2 separate regions of the Homo sapiens genome follow, and region 1 is linked to region 2. The links come from fine-mapping of genetic effects on gene expression. Tissue or cell type: whole blood. Region 2 holds a variant in brackets; the other region holds the start of a gene. All regions are shown on one strand. Distances are between the middles of the regions.

Region 1 (8,043 bases), 29 kb after region 2:
CCTTTTATATGTGTGAGATCACCATTCTCTGCAAAGGGACAGCTCTCCTCGGAGGTTGCACTGAGCCAAGATCATGCTACTGCACTCCAGCCTGGGTGACAGAGTGAGACTCTGTCTCAAAAAATAAAAATAAAAAAAGGGATGGCACTCCTGACATTATTTAACCGGGATATTTCACAGGAAGAGAGCCTTCAGGCCAGTCCATGTTTGGGAAAAGGCTACCTTACCAGGAAGCACTATAACAAATTACTGATGAAACACACACAAGTTGCCAGAACACACAATCCCAAATCAAAGAAACAAGCCTTCAAAGGCAGGATGGTGATAAATGAGGTCACGCCCACAGTCTCTCCAGCCTCAGGTTATAGAGACATAGGTTCCAAGGGACAGTGGATTCCCAACAACCTCACAGTATAAAATCAACATTCAGAATTTTAGAAATGTTCCTTCCTAAGCCCCCCAACAAAGACTATAATATATAGCATTATCATTGGCCATTTGAAACTCGTCTACATGTTCAACCTGTACAACTTTGAAACTTTGAAAAAGATAAGGGCAATCAGCATTTACTGATCGCCTACTATGTCCCATGCTTTGCACACATCTTATAAAACACATACTACAATTCTATGAAGAAAGTATAGTAGCCTATAGTTATTTTAAGAAATAACTGAGGCTTTTTCTCAGGGAAAAAAAAAGAAATTTTAAAAAAGAGAGAAGTAACTGAGGCTCACAGAGCTGTGACTTGCCAGGCAGAGCCAGATATGTATGACTCCAAAATCCAAAGTTTTCATCATTACATTAAGAACTTCTCGCCGGGCGCGGTGGCTCACGCCTGTAATCCCAGCACTCTGGGTGGCCAAGGCGGGTGAATTACTTGAGGCCAGGAGTTCGAGACCAGCCTGGCCCACACGGCGAAATCCCATCTCTACTAAAAATACAAAAAATTAGCCCGGCACAGTGGTGGGCGCCTCAGCAACTCGGGAGGCTGAGGCACGAGAATCGCATGAACTCAGGAGGCGGAGGTTGCAGTGAGCTGAGATTGCACCACTGCACCCTGGCCTGGGAGACAAAGTGAAACTCTGTCTCAAAAAAAAACTAAAAAGAAGAAGTTCTTTCCAGCTGTTCCCAAAAGTTCTGTTTCAAATTTCAAAAAAGGACCACAACCAGGGACCTGGCTGTTTCCAGCCACGGATAACCTCCCTGAGCACAGCTCTCTTTCAGGGCACAGGTTCTCTCTCCTCCCACTCCCCACCCCCACTCATCTTCAGGGACACATTCATCTCACTGATAACAGTGGTTGCCTTATATCTCCTATCTCCTGATGTCCTTACCAGAACTTTTTCTTTTTTGAGATGGAGTCTAGCTCTCTCGCCCAGGCTGGGGTGCAGTGGCTGGAGTGCAGTGGAGCAATCTCGGCTCACTGCAACCTCCGCCTCCTGGGTTCAAGTGATTCTCCTGCCTCAGCCTCCCGAGTAGCTGCGATTACAGACGTGTGCCACCACACCCAGCTAATTTTTGTATTTTGAATACAGACGGGGTTTTGCCATGTTGGCCATGGCTGGTCTCGAACTCCTGACCTCAAGTGATCCGCCTGTGTCGGCCTCCCAAAGTGCTGGGATTACAGGTGTGAGCCACTGTGCCCGGAGTCATCACCAGAACTTCTAAGGCTAGCTTGTTCAACCCACAGCCCAGGACAGCTTTGAATGTAGCCGGACACAAATTTGTAAACTTTCTTAAAACATAGGCCAGGCACGGTGGCTCATGCCTGTAATCCCAGCACTTTGGAAGGCCGAGGCAGGAGGATCACGAGGTCAGGAGTTCGAGACCAGCCTGGCCAATATGGTGAAACCCTGTCCCTATTAAAAATACAAAAATTAGCCAGGCATGGTGGCGCACCTGTAGTCCCAGCTACTCAGGAGGCTGAGGCAGGAGAATCGCTTGAACCCGGGAGGCAGAGGGTGCAGTCAGCCGAGACCATGCCACTGCACTTCAGCCTGGGGGACAGAGTGAGACACTGTCTCAAAAAAAAGAAACACAAAACCATTATGAGATTTTTTTTTTTGCGACTTTTTTTTTAGCTCATCAGCCATCGTTAGTGTTAGTGTATTTTATGTGTGACCCAAGACAATTCTGCTTCCAATGTGGCTTAGAGAAGCCAAAAGAGTGGACACCCCGGTTTTTTTTTTGGGGGGTGACGGAGTTTCACTCTTGTTGTCCAGGCTGGAGTGCAATGCCGCGATCTCAGCTCACCGCAACCTCTGCTTCCCAGGTTCAAGCGATTCTCCTGCCTCATCCTCCCTAGTAGTTGGGATTACGGGCGTGTGTCACCACGCCCGGCTAATTTTGTATTTTTAGAAGAGACGGAGTTTCTCCATGTTGGTCAGGCTGGTCTCGAACTCCCGACCTCAGGTGATCAGCCCGCCTCGGCCTCCCAAAGTGCTGGGATTACGGGCATGAGCCACCGCGCCTGGCCTGGACATCCTTGTTCTAAGGGCACACACCCAGAGGTTTTGTACAAAATAAATGTCTGGTTTTGAATGTCCTAAGAAACGGAACCCAGCTCTTTGTTCACCTCTTTTGTGGGGCATGGAGGGGATGCCTTTTCTGATTTTCAACATTTCTCCCTCCTGAGACCTTCCCAGGGACCCCAACATTGGAGACAGGATAGCAAGAATATCAAATGCTTTCAAAACATTAGCTGTGTTTGGTCGGCCAACCTATTTGCCTCTGTCGGGAATGTAAAAGTTATCTATGGCCAGTCCTTCTTAGTTCAAGGTAGGTCGGCAAACAGCCTTCTCCTTCTGCACAAAAAGGGTCTCTAAGATCCTTCCGTAGCACCTCCATCCCAGTTATTTAAGATGAACTAAAAAGAGGCTACAAGGTAAATAAGAGTTACCGAAGGAGATGCCGGAGAGACTAACCTCCTTGCACAACCAGCCTTTTAAAATTAGGGATTTAGACACCACGGGCAGTTTCCCTCAATAAATTCTCAGGCACTGGAACCAGAGAGTAGGAGGATGAGGGGTGAGCAGGACGCGGAGGCCGAAACTGGAGGCGAGGCGGGCGCAGGCCCACGGAGCACCACCCCATCCCCTAAGCAGCGACTAATAAAGACGGCAGCCTCCGGAATCACTTTCGCCCCCCTCCCTGGCAGCTTCCCCACCGAGTCAGCAGCTTACTTAAGCACGCGCTGCCCAGAGATGCAAAAGGCCCCCTTATGACCACGGCGCTGCCCACCCAGCATTCGGGCAGCCTGGACTCCCACAAAACCCAGAGTTGCGCCCCAATCACCACCCCTTTGCAGCCCCTGGTTCCCTCCCCAGCGGCGCCCCACCACCCACCTCTCCCCTAAGGCCATTCAACTCAGTCCCTCCTCGGGGCCCCTCAGCTTTTGCCCCTCCAGTTCCTCCGTGTCATGACTCTCGCCCTCCTGAGCCTCCCACACCTGGCACCGCCCCCACCCTACCCGACCCCGGCCCGGCCTGGCCCCGCCGGCCTTACCTGGCGGCGGCTGCCGCTCGCCCTCAGCCATCTTGCTCCGGCCAGGAGCCGACCCGGATGCTTGCAGTCCCCTCTCGCCTTTCACTCTTGCACCCACCCTTCCTCTCCCCGGCTCCACCAAAGGCTCCGAGCTTCCTGAAGACAAGTGAGCGCCGGCCGGCTATAACCGAAAACCGAGAGTTAAAGTCACCACAGCGAAGACGGCCGCCATGTCGGTGCGGGGCGCTCAGGGAGCAAGCCTATTAACGGCCGGCGCGCGGCGGACGCGCGGAACCGGGCGACGGCCATGTCAGTGCGGGGCGCGCGGGGCGCATGCGCGCCAACGGCCGCCAAGCGCTAGGACCGCTCACGGCCGCCCGAACGTCGGGCGCCGCGACTGCCACGATTGTGCGGGGCGTCAAGTTTGGGTTGTGCTCAGCCATGTTTTTCCGGGACAGTCTCCTGTCCCGGAGTACCACCTGTCATCTTTGTGGGTGGTACTGACCCTAACCCAAGGAATATTAGAGGACATTCCCCGGTCAACATGGTTGTGTTTTCCTATCACTCTAAGAGTTAGGCTCAAGGACACCAGACGGAGTTGGAAAGGTGCACACCACTACCTCCAACAGCTTAGAAGACATGTGGGGACAGGGGAGAGACAGCTGGACGGTGACCTCCTCCTTCCTCCTCCACAGGTCTCAATGACTCGCCCTCGGCCCTGCCCCTCTGTCCCCGCCCGCCGTGGTCCCGCCCCCGACTCGCAGCCAGCCTACTGCGACCCGCTACCGGGCGACGCCCCGCCCCTCCGTCCCCGCCCCTCCTGTCCCTCCTCAAGGAGACTCCGCCCCATCGATGCCCCGTCCCCGCCCCACAGCCAACCTCCCGGGCACCGTTGCCCGCCCGGGGCCCGCTACCGGCCCAGGCCCCGCCTCGCGAGTCCTCCTCCCCGGGTGCCTTCCCGCAGCCCGCTCGGCCCAGAGGGTGGGCGCGGGGCTGCCTCTACCGGCTGGCGGCTGTAACTCAGCGACCTTGGCCCGAAGGCTCTAGCAAGGACCCACCGACCCCAGCCGCGGCGGCGGCGGCGCGGACTTTGCCCGGTGTGTGGGGCGGAGCGGACTGCGTGTCCGCGGACGGGCAGCGAAGATGTTAGCCTTCGCTGCCAGGACCGTGGTGAGTGCGGCGGATCCCGGGCCTGAGGGCCCTGGACGGCCTGGGCGGGCCGTGCGGTTGCGTCCGGGAACGGAGACCGCGTCCTGCGGCCGCTGTTCGACCCGGCCTCCAGCTGATGGGGTGGGGTCAGGCGGGCGTCCCAGGTTTGGCAGAGCAGGAGATTGGGGCGCAAGGTCAGAAGCGGGATTAAACCCACGTCCTGGAGCATTCAGTTCCAACGACCCAGGAAAGACAAGGGGGACCCCGGCTTCAGTTAGCACCCCCACCCTTAGACCCAGAGACAGGCCGGTAGGGGAGAGAGACCAGGAGCATCCAGACCCTAGCTCACTCTCCCAGTTATTCTCCGATTGACACACCCGTCGCACGCTTAGGCCAGAGCCACTCCTCCGACCCTGTCCAGTTGGTCACACTCCTTTGGTTTATCAGACGGTCCCTGGGGAATTGTGTGTGGCCAGAGAAACACGCGGAGGCATCAAGCTAGAAAGGCCTCAGAACTGGCAGGTGGCAGCCCCATGGTCTCCCTCCCCTCCAGCCCCCTTCCCCACCCTGGCTGTATCCTTCCCTCCAGCCCCCTTCCCCACCCTGGCTATATCCTCCCCTCTAGCCCCCTTCCCCACCCTGGCTATATCTACCCCTCAGTCCTCCCCGGTGAGCAGCCCGGATGCTAGCCTAATTTCAGTCCCTTCCGTCCCTGATCCAAGCATATGTTGCTGGTGTCTCACTCTGTCTCAGACACACACTACGGGGCCAGAGGGCGGAGGGTGCATCCAGGCTCAGGCCTAGAGGCTCTTTTAGGTGTTGCAACACCCTGAGCCTCCACCGCACCCTTGTCACTGTCTCCCAAGCTGCATCCATCCCACAAACAGCCTCTAGATCATCCTCCAGGACCATCCGACTGGACTGGTTACCTTCCTGCAGGGAAACTGAGGCAAGGAGGGACTTGCCCAGAGTCCCCTGGACCTGCTCATTCAAATCCAGCCCAATCCCAGTGTCCTTTGGTTTATTTTTCATACCAAAAGTCCTCCGCTCTTGGACCCTAGCTGAATGAGCCACAGCTCAGGAAAAAATGAGTGTTCGTAGAGGGATGGCTCAGATGGGTCCCAGGAGTCCTGGAGAGAAACAGGAAATAGGCAGGGCTTCTGGCTGTCCCATCCACTGATGGCCTTTTCCTGGTGTCTGCTCCCTTGCACCAACCCTAATTTCAGGACCGATCCCAGGGCTGTGGTGTAACCTCAGCGGCCAGGCAGTCTCTGTCCTCCAGCCAAGTTTTCCCTCATCAAAACGATCTTCGCAGATTCTGACAGGTGGATTTTTTATTACCTTTTGTCCTGACTCCCTGGCACTGAGCCCATGCAGAGAAGAAAGGAAAGAACTTTCCAGGTTCCCTTCTACTGGAATGCCCCCCCACTAGCCCTCTCACCTGCTCCCCATTCCTCTACTTCTGGGAGCTCGGGAGGGTGGAGCAGCTTCTAGAGTCCAGGAGCTTCCCCTGCCACTGCCACAACCCCCGATTCCACCACAGCCATCGCCACTGCCACCTGCCTCCCGCTGAATCTTGGCTCTTGTCTTCTCTTTCCAGCCCAGGCAAGTGGCTGCCTCTGGCTAGGTTCTGCTCACTCACTTTGTAGCACAGTTAGGCTTAGAGATCCAGCCAAGGCAGACAGACAGGGCCCAGAACCTCAGTCCTGCCATGGAGGAGGACGGGCAGCAGAGAGAGAAGGTATGGAACAGAGCTCCTGCCACTCGCCTGCCCACTGCAAGAGCAGCCTCGGGCCCTCCTGTCTCTGCCCACTCCAGGGCCTCCTGGACTTTCTCTTTCTCTCTCTGCCGCCTCTCACCCTCCATGCCAGGCCACCCGGCTCTCTCGCCACAGCACTGCCCTCACCCCACCCCTGCCCCATCTCAAAGGCAGGAGGAAGCCCAAGGCCCCTCACCCGAAGGTGCTGCCATTGTCTGGCTCTCTGTGATTCTCTCTTCTTCCCTTCTGTTTCTCAACCTGGAAAGGGTGGGAGAAAAGGACGTGGGGACCTCCAAGAGGGACAGTCACCACTCTGCTGGCTGGCTCCTCTTCCAGGGTGAGAAAGGAGGGGCCTGTGCAACCCAACAGGTGGGCGGTCCCCCTCACCTCTGCCACCCCAAAGGTGCCGTTCATCCTGACTTGGTTCCCCTGAGCCTTGCTAAGAACCATGGCCACACCCCACCCTCCCCCATCCCTACCTGCATCTCCAGGCCCCAGAGAGGCGGGGACACCTAGAGCTCTAGGGCTGGGAGGCCAGGGCCAGCCCCACCCAAGAGGCCGTCTCTGCCCCCAGGGATGGGCACTTAAGTGCCCAGGACTACAGCTTTGGGGCTGCCAGGGCTCCAGAGCCGGGGAGGGAATGAACAGGATGTTCTGCTACCTGCAGGTGAAGCCTCTGGGCTTCCTGAAGCCCTTCTCCTTGATGAAGGCTTCCAGCCGCTTCAAGGCACACCAGGATGCACTGCCACGGCTGCCCGTGCCCCCTCTCCAGCAGTCCCTGGACCACTACCTGAAGGCGCTGCAGCCCATCGTGAGTGAGGAGGAGTGGGCCCACACCAAGCAGCTGGTGGATGAGTTTCAGGCCTCAGGAGGTGTAGGGGAGCGCCTGCAGAAGGGGCTGGAGCGTCGGGCCAGGAAGACGGAGAACTGGGTGAGTGAGGGCATCCTCACTGTGACCTGCTGCTGGCTGCACATGCACAGTTCTCCAGTGCCCACTGCTCTGGCACGGCCGTTCGTTTGCTGCCCAGAGTTTCGTGAGCACATACTCTGTGTCTGGCACTTGGCAGGGTGCTGGGTGATCAAGAAGGACACAGTCACCAGCTCCTTGGAGCTAACATTCAAGTAGGGAGGAGAGAAAGGTAATGAACAGGATACAGGTTGTGGACAAGGTTTCATGTTCCAGGACAGAGGCAGGAGTGGGGTGCACGGCAGGTACAACCAGATAGAAGATGCCCTTGTGCTTGGTGGGACAGCCTCAGGCAGGGGATATGTGTCACTCAGTGACCGATCGCCCAGGTTCTGTATCTGATCTATGACACAGGTGTACCCAGTTTGGCAAATATGTCTACACCAATGTTTGGTGTGCTTTTCTATTTGCATCTCATACTTCAATACACAGATTTAAAAAGTGGCAGCTGGATGCAGTGACTCACACCTATAATCCCAGCACTTTGGGAGTCCAAGGCGGGCAGATCACAAGGTCAGGAGTTCGGGACCAGCCTGGCCAACATGATGAAACCCTGTCTCTACTAAAAATACAAAAATTAGCCAGGCGTAGTGGCACGCACCTGTAATCCCAGATACTGGGGAGGCTGAGGCAGGAGAATTGCTTGAACCTGGCAGGTGGAGGTTGCAGTGAGCCAAGATTGTGC
Region 2 (8,049 bases):
GGGGCGGAAGGGAGTGAGGGCCCGGTCTGTTCAGTTCAAGCCTCATTAACCCCTTCAGGACCAAGTGCAGGGAGCCAAGCCAACTGGAAGCATCTGTGCTCCCCCACCCCGCTGGCCTCTGGCACCCTTCCCCGTTGTCCCGCCTCTGCTGATGGGATCCAGGAAGCTCTGGGTCCAATGAAGACCTGGAGCAGCCCCTTCCCAGAAGAGAAGGCCGGCCAGGAGTCAAGAGATGGTGCCCACAGTACAGTGTCTGAGGCCATGAACTAGTCACAAGGGCCAGCCTGAGAACAGAAAGAAGGGACTTTAAGGACCCATCACTCCAGGTGTGGAACTTCACATCCAGCCCTTCCCTGGCCAAGGTCAAGCAGTTCTAGAATTAGTCTTCCCAGGAAGTGGGAGGAGCTAGCAGAAGGGACAGAGTAGAAATAAAATGTCTCCTCCCCACTTGGAAGAGAGAAAAGGCCACCTCCTTGGCTGGGAGAACAGTGCCAAGAGGGCAGGAGACACCCTCGGCTGCCTGCCAGCAGGGGGAGCTCCAGGAAGCCTCAGCTCTCCTCTCCTCAGCATCTGATTTGAGAGCAGGGAAAACCATTTGCATCAAAATCCCTGAAGCGGTCCATAAAAATGCCAATTCTCGGCCTACCCTCAGACCTCCCACCACTCAGTGATCATACACACTAACATTTGAAGGCAGCACTTTGGAGATGCCTCCAAAGGGTAAGACCCTTCCCAGGTATGCCATGGGAGAGCCAGACTCAGACTGCCCGAGCTTTGAGGAGCCTTTGGCCACTTGATAAAGGAGAAGGGAGGCCCCCATCGCCCCCACTCCCCATGCAGCAGGTCCTTGCCTCAGCCTCCAAGCTCATCAGGACAGAGCTGGACTGCAGCTTTTCGGGGCTGGGGTGGCTGGTGCTTCTCTGACTGCCCATGCCCCAGATGGGAGATTCCGAGGCCCCAAGTGTCAGAGGGGCTGGCCTAAGATTCAGAGCAAAACAGTGGGGTAGGAGGAAGCAGGAGCCCCAGGTTCCACATCTTTTGCTTTGTCCCCAGCCCAGGACCAAGTGCGGCAGCAGGGACGGGCACACTGGCCAGCCCCCACTCACCTCGGCCTTATACATGCGGATGAGACCCTGGTTCACTTTGGACCAGGAAGGGACGGCGCTGATGTTCCACAGCTGGTTGGAGTGCTCTGCAAATGGGCCAGTCTTCATCTGAAAAAGAGAAGCCACAAGCTGAAGAGACAGGTTCTGGCTGGGAGCTCATCCCTCCTCCCCTGCAGCAAAGTCACACCCATGCATGCACACACACACACACACAAACGCACACGCACACAATGCACGCGCAGACACTTGGGGACCAAGCTATAGCATCTGCCTGAGGGGCAAACATACAAACAGGCACATGCAAGTGCCAGAGACAAGGTTCCCCTTTGGCCCTCAAGGCCTGCTAGGAAAATATAACATTCCTTGCCCACCTACCCGCAGTCACCCCTCTTTCTCCCACAGCCAAAAAAAGGGGGCCTGATTCCTATCGCCCACCAAATCCAGCAGCCTCAGGAAGATAAGATCTCCACCTGAGCTTCTGGTGTCGTTCCCACCGACTCCCCAGGAGCCTCAGAGCGCCTCTCCAGCACAGGGATTCACTTGGGTTCAGATAAATAGCAGCAGCAGCTAGGCCCCACCCCTCCAGGCCCACCCCCTCTCCCCCAGGCCCCCCCACAGGACACGTGGTCTGCACCTGCCACCAGCAGAGCTAGAAGAGATGAGGAAAGGGTCAATTTGCAAGAGGACCAAGGTGGGTATGACCAAACCCAGGTATCCGACAGCCCTCTGCCTGCCATGCAGGCAGGGAAGAGAGGGCCGATGGGAGGCAGGGGTGCCTGAAGCAGCAGCCAGCCTGGCCTGGCCAGGAGGTGGGGAAGGGGTGGCCGCCACAGCAGCTGAAAGAGGCAGGCACAAGGACGGCTCCATTCCTGGTCCTCCCTCTTGCCAAAGAGTCTGACCCTCCAGGACGGAAGAGAAAGATTCTGCAGCCAGCATGAAGTTCCCATGACGTCAGAAACCACAGAGGGACGCCTGTGTGCCTGAGCATATCCCCCTGACACCGCAAGTCCAGCACATTTGTATTTATTAACCAAGCAGTTCATAATTCCCCTCGACACAGCCCCCCAGCTCATAGGCAGCATTTACAGGGGAACAGGGCTCTGTACCCCAGACCCATGCTGCAGAAGGAAGACTCTGCAAAGAGGCTGAATCTGGCAAAGAAACAGAGACTTGGAAGGTTCTAGAAACATGCGGGTGTCAGGGGAGACTGGGTTATTTTTTGAAGGAGAAAAGATAAGCCAGAAACGCTCTCCAAAAAGGGGCATCAGTTCACCACAAGAGCCCTCAGGAGCCCCCACTCTTGAGCCATGGGCTGCCACCTGGTGACCCACTCCTGGCAGGCCTCTTACTTCTCTAGTAAGGGCAACTGTGACAAAACTTTTAAGATTTAAGTCAAAAAAAACCTGTCATTTTATCCCCCTCATTTCCCTCCCCTGGCCCAGGTTCCCAAAAAGCCCATCCAAACACCCATGTTCAGGAGCAAGGACAACAGGCTCCTCCCTCCCCTCCTCTTCTCTCCCAGGCTCCACCACAGCCAGGCAAGAGCCCGAGGCACCCAACAGAGACAAAGCCCACTCTGGTCCCTGGGGGCCTTGTCTTGGACCACTCGCTTCACTCAGAATCACCCCAGGCTCTCTCCTCCAGGAGGGCAGCCAGGCACCCCGAGCCTACAGGGGCCTCACCTCTGGGGAGCTTTGTTTCAACTGCCCTGCTCAACCACACTCCACCCCCAGCCCCTCCCCCACCTCCCCACCCTACCCCACCCCTTCCCCAGTCTGCAGGCTCCAGCCCTGTGCACACTTCCAGGCCCAGGAAAGCTCAGGGAGCATGGAGCTGTGTAACCAGTTTCACTCTCTGGACAGGGCCCTCTGAGCAAGCAACCAGGAGGCACCCTGTCGGCTTTGTCGGCTTTGTCTGCCAGGGGCCTGCCCGGCAAGGGCTCCGAGGCAAAGGCAGGCAGATGGGCACTGGAAGACAAGAGCCCCTGCCTCCTGGCCAGCCTCGCCTACCAGGGCCAAAGAACAGATCCTCAAAAGGCCTCTGGCAGAGCCAGGGCTAGGCCCATGTCCTGGAGCTCCAGTGGCCCTGGGCCCCTACACACAGAAAGGCCAGAGAGGTAGTTTCTTTGGAGGGGCTGCAGGCTGCCCCCAGGCCTTCAGTACCCCAGGGTCTCCCTAAGTCCTTCAGGGAGGTTACAGTCCTTTGCCTGTAACTCTGGCAAAGGAAAACAGACGAGTGGGAGAAAAAGGAATCGGGGCTGGAAGACAAAGAAAAAATTAGCTCATTCTAGCCACAAAGGGAGAAGAGAAAGAACCAGAATGAGCGAGCGAGCTGCAGCCCGCAGTGACCCCAGGGGAATCGTGTGAGTCAGAGCAGCCATATTGAGCAGGAAATTACTCACAGACGCTGCGTTCCTGCCTCTCCACTCCCCAGAGAATCGGCCTTTTGTAAATGGCTCCTCTGTCAGTAACTGGGGGGATGGGCGGGGGTGGGGAGGCTCTGCACAGCGCCTTCCTGTCAGCTCCTTCCCTTCCAGCTGAAATCTGATCCCTCCCTTCCCAAAACTCCAAATTTAGAAGCCAGATTGAAACTGAAATTCTTTTCCTGCCTGCCCTGGGCTCTTAAAGGCGCCAGGGCTGCATTTACAGAGGCTGTAGAGGCCCTGCAAGGTGGGGTCCCTCACCTAGGATGCCCACGGGTATCAGGGCAGTCTTGGCATGAGACCCTGAAAGGGCTGCCTGATTCCACTCCCAAGTTCTCGGTGTTTTAGTTAATCTCCCAGTTAAAAGAGCACCATGGTGAATCCAGGGTCTCCAGAGGAAACACTGCCTCCTTCCCAAGCAAGGCGTACAGAACTCCATGCAAGCCTCCAGGTCCCCAGTGAGCTAGGCCAGGCCACTCACCAACTAGGGACTGCAAAATGCTGCTCACTGCTCCGAGGTGGAAGAGGGTGGGCGCTCTGGAGAACCAACACAACGTGTGCTGCAACCAGCGGCCACGTGGCAAGATGGGCCCTTGCTGCAGCCACCCCGGCTCCTGGGCACACTCCTCCTAGGGTCTACTGTTGAACACCATGCCCAAGAGCCTAGACCCAAAGTGAAAACCC[G/A]GACCTGTGGAGAAGGTGCGGAACAGCCAACAACTCTAGGCACGCCCTCCCCTCCCTGTTCCTTCTGCTGCCTCAAATAAATGTCACCAAACCCTCTCCAAGTTCAGTGTGCCTCTCCTGCCACCTAGTGGCTACTTTGAGATTTCCTCTACTGGAGGAACTGGGTCCCAAACTTTGGAAAAGCTTTTGGGGTGTTTATACCAACAAAATCAACCAACCAACTAAAGACAAAATTTTACCATGGAATCAATTCCCAAAATCCTGGAGGCCAGGCCTGGCATGCCTCCTAGTTAGAATACCGACAGGGACCCAGAGGCCTGGCCAGCCGCCGGGGGAGCCCAAACAGCTCAGCCTTTCAGCCACACCCAAGAACTCAGTGTGGCATCTGCACCCTTCTTCCCACCCTGCTCCTCCAGCTTATCCTGAGGTCCCCCAGGGCTCCGCAGACCCCCACATTCCACTCCACAGAGAGCAGCGCGTGACTGGCTTTCAAGGCAGTGAGCCAGGCTGCCCCCAAGTCCTCCCGACCTTGGGCCTGCCACACTGCTGAGGGCAGCAGATCTCCGGGAATGAAGTGGTGGCCGCCCAGCCGTCAGTCCCGGCTCCATTTGCTGACTTGGAAAAAATGTGTCATTCCCCTCTGGCCTCTGGAGTTTGGCAGAAGCCTGAGCCGAATGTTGACCAGGAAGAGCCTGGAGCCAAGGCTGCTGGTTATAACCCAGCTTTCTCCACCTCGTCGGGGGCTCAGAATACACAGCCCGGACGGAGAGCAGCCCCCGTGGCCAGCATCCACAGGCCTGCTAGGAACCTCACTGAGGCAGCAGACATCCGTGCTGGTGTCGGGAAAGGGACTGAGGAGGGATAGAACTCTCAAACCCTCTCCAGATAGCTGAGCGAGGGCGCCCTTTGGAAACTGGGGCATGGGGATGGCAGAGAGGATGAGAAGTCCTAACACCTCCCTCAAGAGAGGTCCAGAGAGCAGAGGGTCCCCAGCTTTCCTGTGCAGTCGCCTGGCACGTGTGTTTAGATGCAGGTTCCTGGCTCTTGTCCCCTAAGATTCTGATGCAATAAGCTGGGATGGAGGGCCCAGGAATGTGCGTTTTAACAAACACACTAGGAGATCTCGCACAAGTGGTCCAGGGCCCACTGCAAGGAATCCTGCCTTGGTGAGACAATAACTTCCAGTTCCAGAACCCAGCCGTGGGGCTGGCTATCCAGTGACTGCCACCACAGGCCAGGCCTGCGCACTCCCACTCCAGCACTTTGCTCGGGCCCACGTCCTCAGGCACTGACAGAGACGTGTCCCTTCGACAGAAAAGCTGTCTGCACCAGAAGTTCGCTCCATCTCCTCTGGTGGTTTCATTTTACACATCCACAGCACATGGTTCTACAGACCCTTGTGGGGCCCCACCGAAAGATGCTGACCCTCCCCCACAAACCTCCGCCCGCCCCGACCCTTTCAGACCTGCTGCAGCAGTCACCAAGGCCAGTTAGTGACCAAGTCTTAGACCCTCATCTCAAGACTCCTGTGGTGTTCAGGAGAAACTGAAGGAGAACTGGGCGGAGGACCTGACAGTCAGCAGCGGCTCTTTCGGAAGAGGCCCAGTGGTGCTTCCTTTTCAATAACCCGCTCCGGCCGGCCCTGCCATTTTGGGCAGCAGCTCTGGCTCTTCTGATCCACTGTAAGGCCACCAGCCTTGGTTCATCTGAGCCTGGAGGCAGCCATGGGCTTCTCTCTCACCCCTCCTCCTCACCTCGGTAATAAACAGGATACACTCCAGGAACATGTAGTCCTTGTGGTTCTCATTCACGGCCTTCTCATCCACAAAGTGTCTGGGCTCCAGGTATGGGTGGTCTGGGAAAAGGAATGGGCCCCAGCATTCAGAACCAGGCCCCACGACTACCTGGGCAACCCGGCCCAGCAGTCACACCCCCCCAGGGGCCTCAGTCCTGCCCGTGGTGCCCTCAACACCTCACCTTGAAGGAGCAATAAGTAACTCTGGGTTTGTGTATTCTAATGTGCTAAGCTCTAGCTGCATGGCGTTGGACGCATGACTTCAGCCTGCCAAGGTTCAGTTTCCTCACCTGGACACTGGGGACAAGAAGAGCACCTCCTCCTAGGGGCCATGACAACAATTACCACACCTACAGCACTCAGTATGGTGCCTGGTGCAGGTGCCAGTCAGCAGAGCCGGCTTCATGCTGGCAGACCCTTCGCAGTGTCACTGAGAAGATTCGGGGAGGCAATGCACCCGAGGCCACAACTAATGGTCATTTATGAATATCAGTCTGTAGGCAGTTCATTCTTCATCAAAATAGAGATGATCACCTACGCCCATCCTGAAAACTAGCTTCAAGAGTTGGGGAGTCACCAGAGCAGGCCTCTCTGAGCCCCACAGGAAGCAGGCCCACCACCCAGCACTTGGCGGCTGCTCCCTAACGGGCCCCTTTGCACACAGCTCGATAATAACAGTGGATGACACTGGTCACCAAATCAAAAGGGTCCCTCATTTTCAACATAAAACCCCACAGCTGCTGCCAGGAGCTGGGGCGCATTTCACACCAGTCCATTATGCACCAGGCGTGCGCCCTTGCTCCAGCCCATGTCACTTCCCATTATCTTGGTGGCGCTTGGCCTCCGCCTCCTCCAGCCCACCACACGGGCTCTCACAGCAGAAGGTCGACAGTAAACAGCCTCCCTCAATAGCTGGTCTAATGCCCTGCTTTCCAAGCTGTCACTGTCTGCCCTGGGCAGGAAGAAGGGAAGGAGGGAGCGCAGGAGGGGCAGGGGAGGGCCACAGAACGCAGCCTTGGTTGGGGGTGGAGGGATAGGCACCTCCCGCTCTAGTACCTATCAGCTGCGAACTGCCCCAGATGAAGGGCAGAAACTGGAAGTCATCCAGACCCCACACTCCCTGGCTGCCGGCTGGCTCCATCCTGTATGTTTTCTGGAGTTTCCGCATAACCTCAAGGTACCTGCACAGGAGGACAGGGAAAGGGAAGGTAGCAAAAAGTAAAAAGACAGTCTCACCCTTTCGGCCACTGGGAGCACAAGGAGACCCCAAAATAACCACTGAAGAGTGTTAACTGGTCTCAATTTCAATAATGTAGCTTTATTTCCCCCAACAAACACTCAGCCATCTTTTGGCTCAGGAAAGGCATAAAAATCACTGATTAAGGGCCCGGGCACGGTGGCTCACGCCTGTAATCCCAGCACTTTGGGAGGCCGAGGCAGGCGGATCACAAGGTCAGGAGATCGAGACCATCCTGGCCAACACGGTGAAACCCCGTCTCTACTAAAAATCCAAAAAATCAGCCAGGTGTGGTGGTGGGCGCCTGTGGTCCCAGCTACTCTGGAGGCTGAGGCAGGAGAATGGCATGAACCCAGGAGGCAGAGCTTGCAGTGAGCCGAGATCTCTCCACTGCACTCCAGCCTGGGCGACAGAGCAAGACCCTGTCTCAAAAAAAATAAACAAATAAATAAATAAAAAATCACTGATTAGGAAGGTGGGTTTTGGTGCCATCAACTCCTGACAACTTGTAAAACCCTGGGCAGGGCCTCAGCCTCTCCAGCCTCAGTTGGCCTGTCTGAAAGCTAACACAAGTCCCAGCAGGTTATCTCCTAGGTTCTTCTGGTTCCAACCTTCTATATTATCAGAGGCTGCATATCAACCACCTGTGAAGCATCGAGCACTGCTCCTGGGCTCCGTCACAGGCCTGCTGCAGCAGCACTGCTAGACTGGGGCCCGCAATGGGGATTTTAAGAGCTCTGGGTAACTGATCCACATCAGTGCTGCCCAGCGACTGGCTTGGGTGGTGTGGGGCAGCAGGTCAGAG

Evidence for each region. PIP is the estimated chance that this variant, and not a neighbour inherited with it, causes the effect.
Region 1: it holds the start of PTPA, and the variant in region 2 is fine-mapped to the expression of PTPA in whole blood (TOPMed, PIP above 0.99).

Annotation. Positions count from the first base shown.
Region 1 is chr9:129,107,093-129,115,135 of GRCh38, reverse strand. PTPA (protein phosphatase 2 phosphatase activator) reads right to left here and starts at 3,721. Exons shown (of 10, transcript NM_178000.3): 1 at 3,505-3,721. The coding sequence starts at 3,535. CRAT (carnitine O-acetyltransferase) reads left to right here and starts at 4,343. Exons shown (of 14, transcript NM_000755.5): 1 at 4,343-4,653; 2 at 7,059-7,322. The coding sequence starts at 4,627. RefSeq lists silencers at 3,408-3,457, 4,148-4,587 and enhancers at 2,985-3,525, 3,458-3,737.
Region 2 is chr9:129,135,610-129,143,658 of GRCh38, reverse strand. It overlaps PTPA (protein phosphatase 2 phosphatase activator), which reads right to left. Exons shown (of 10, transcript NM_178000.3): 7 at 7,064-7,188; 8 at 5,967-6,067; 9 at 1,107-1,214. Among named protein-coding and RNA genes, the nearest start is that of PTPA, 28 kb to the right of the region's middle. RefSeq lists enhancers at 1-109, 1-139, 2,209-2,258, 2,656-3,285, 3,366-3,525 and 4 more and a silencer at 2,716-2,765. The variant G/A (reference allele first, on the strand shown) is at 4,213.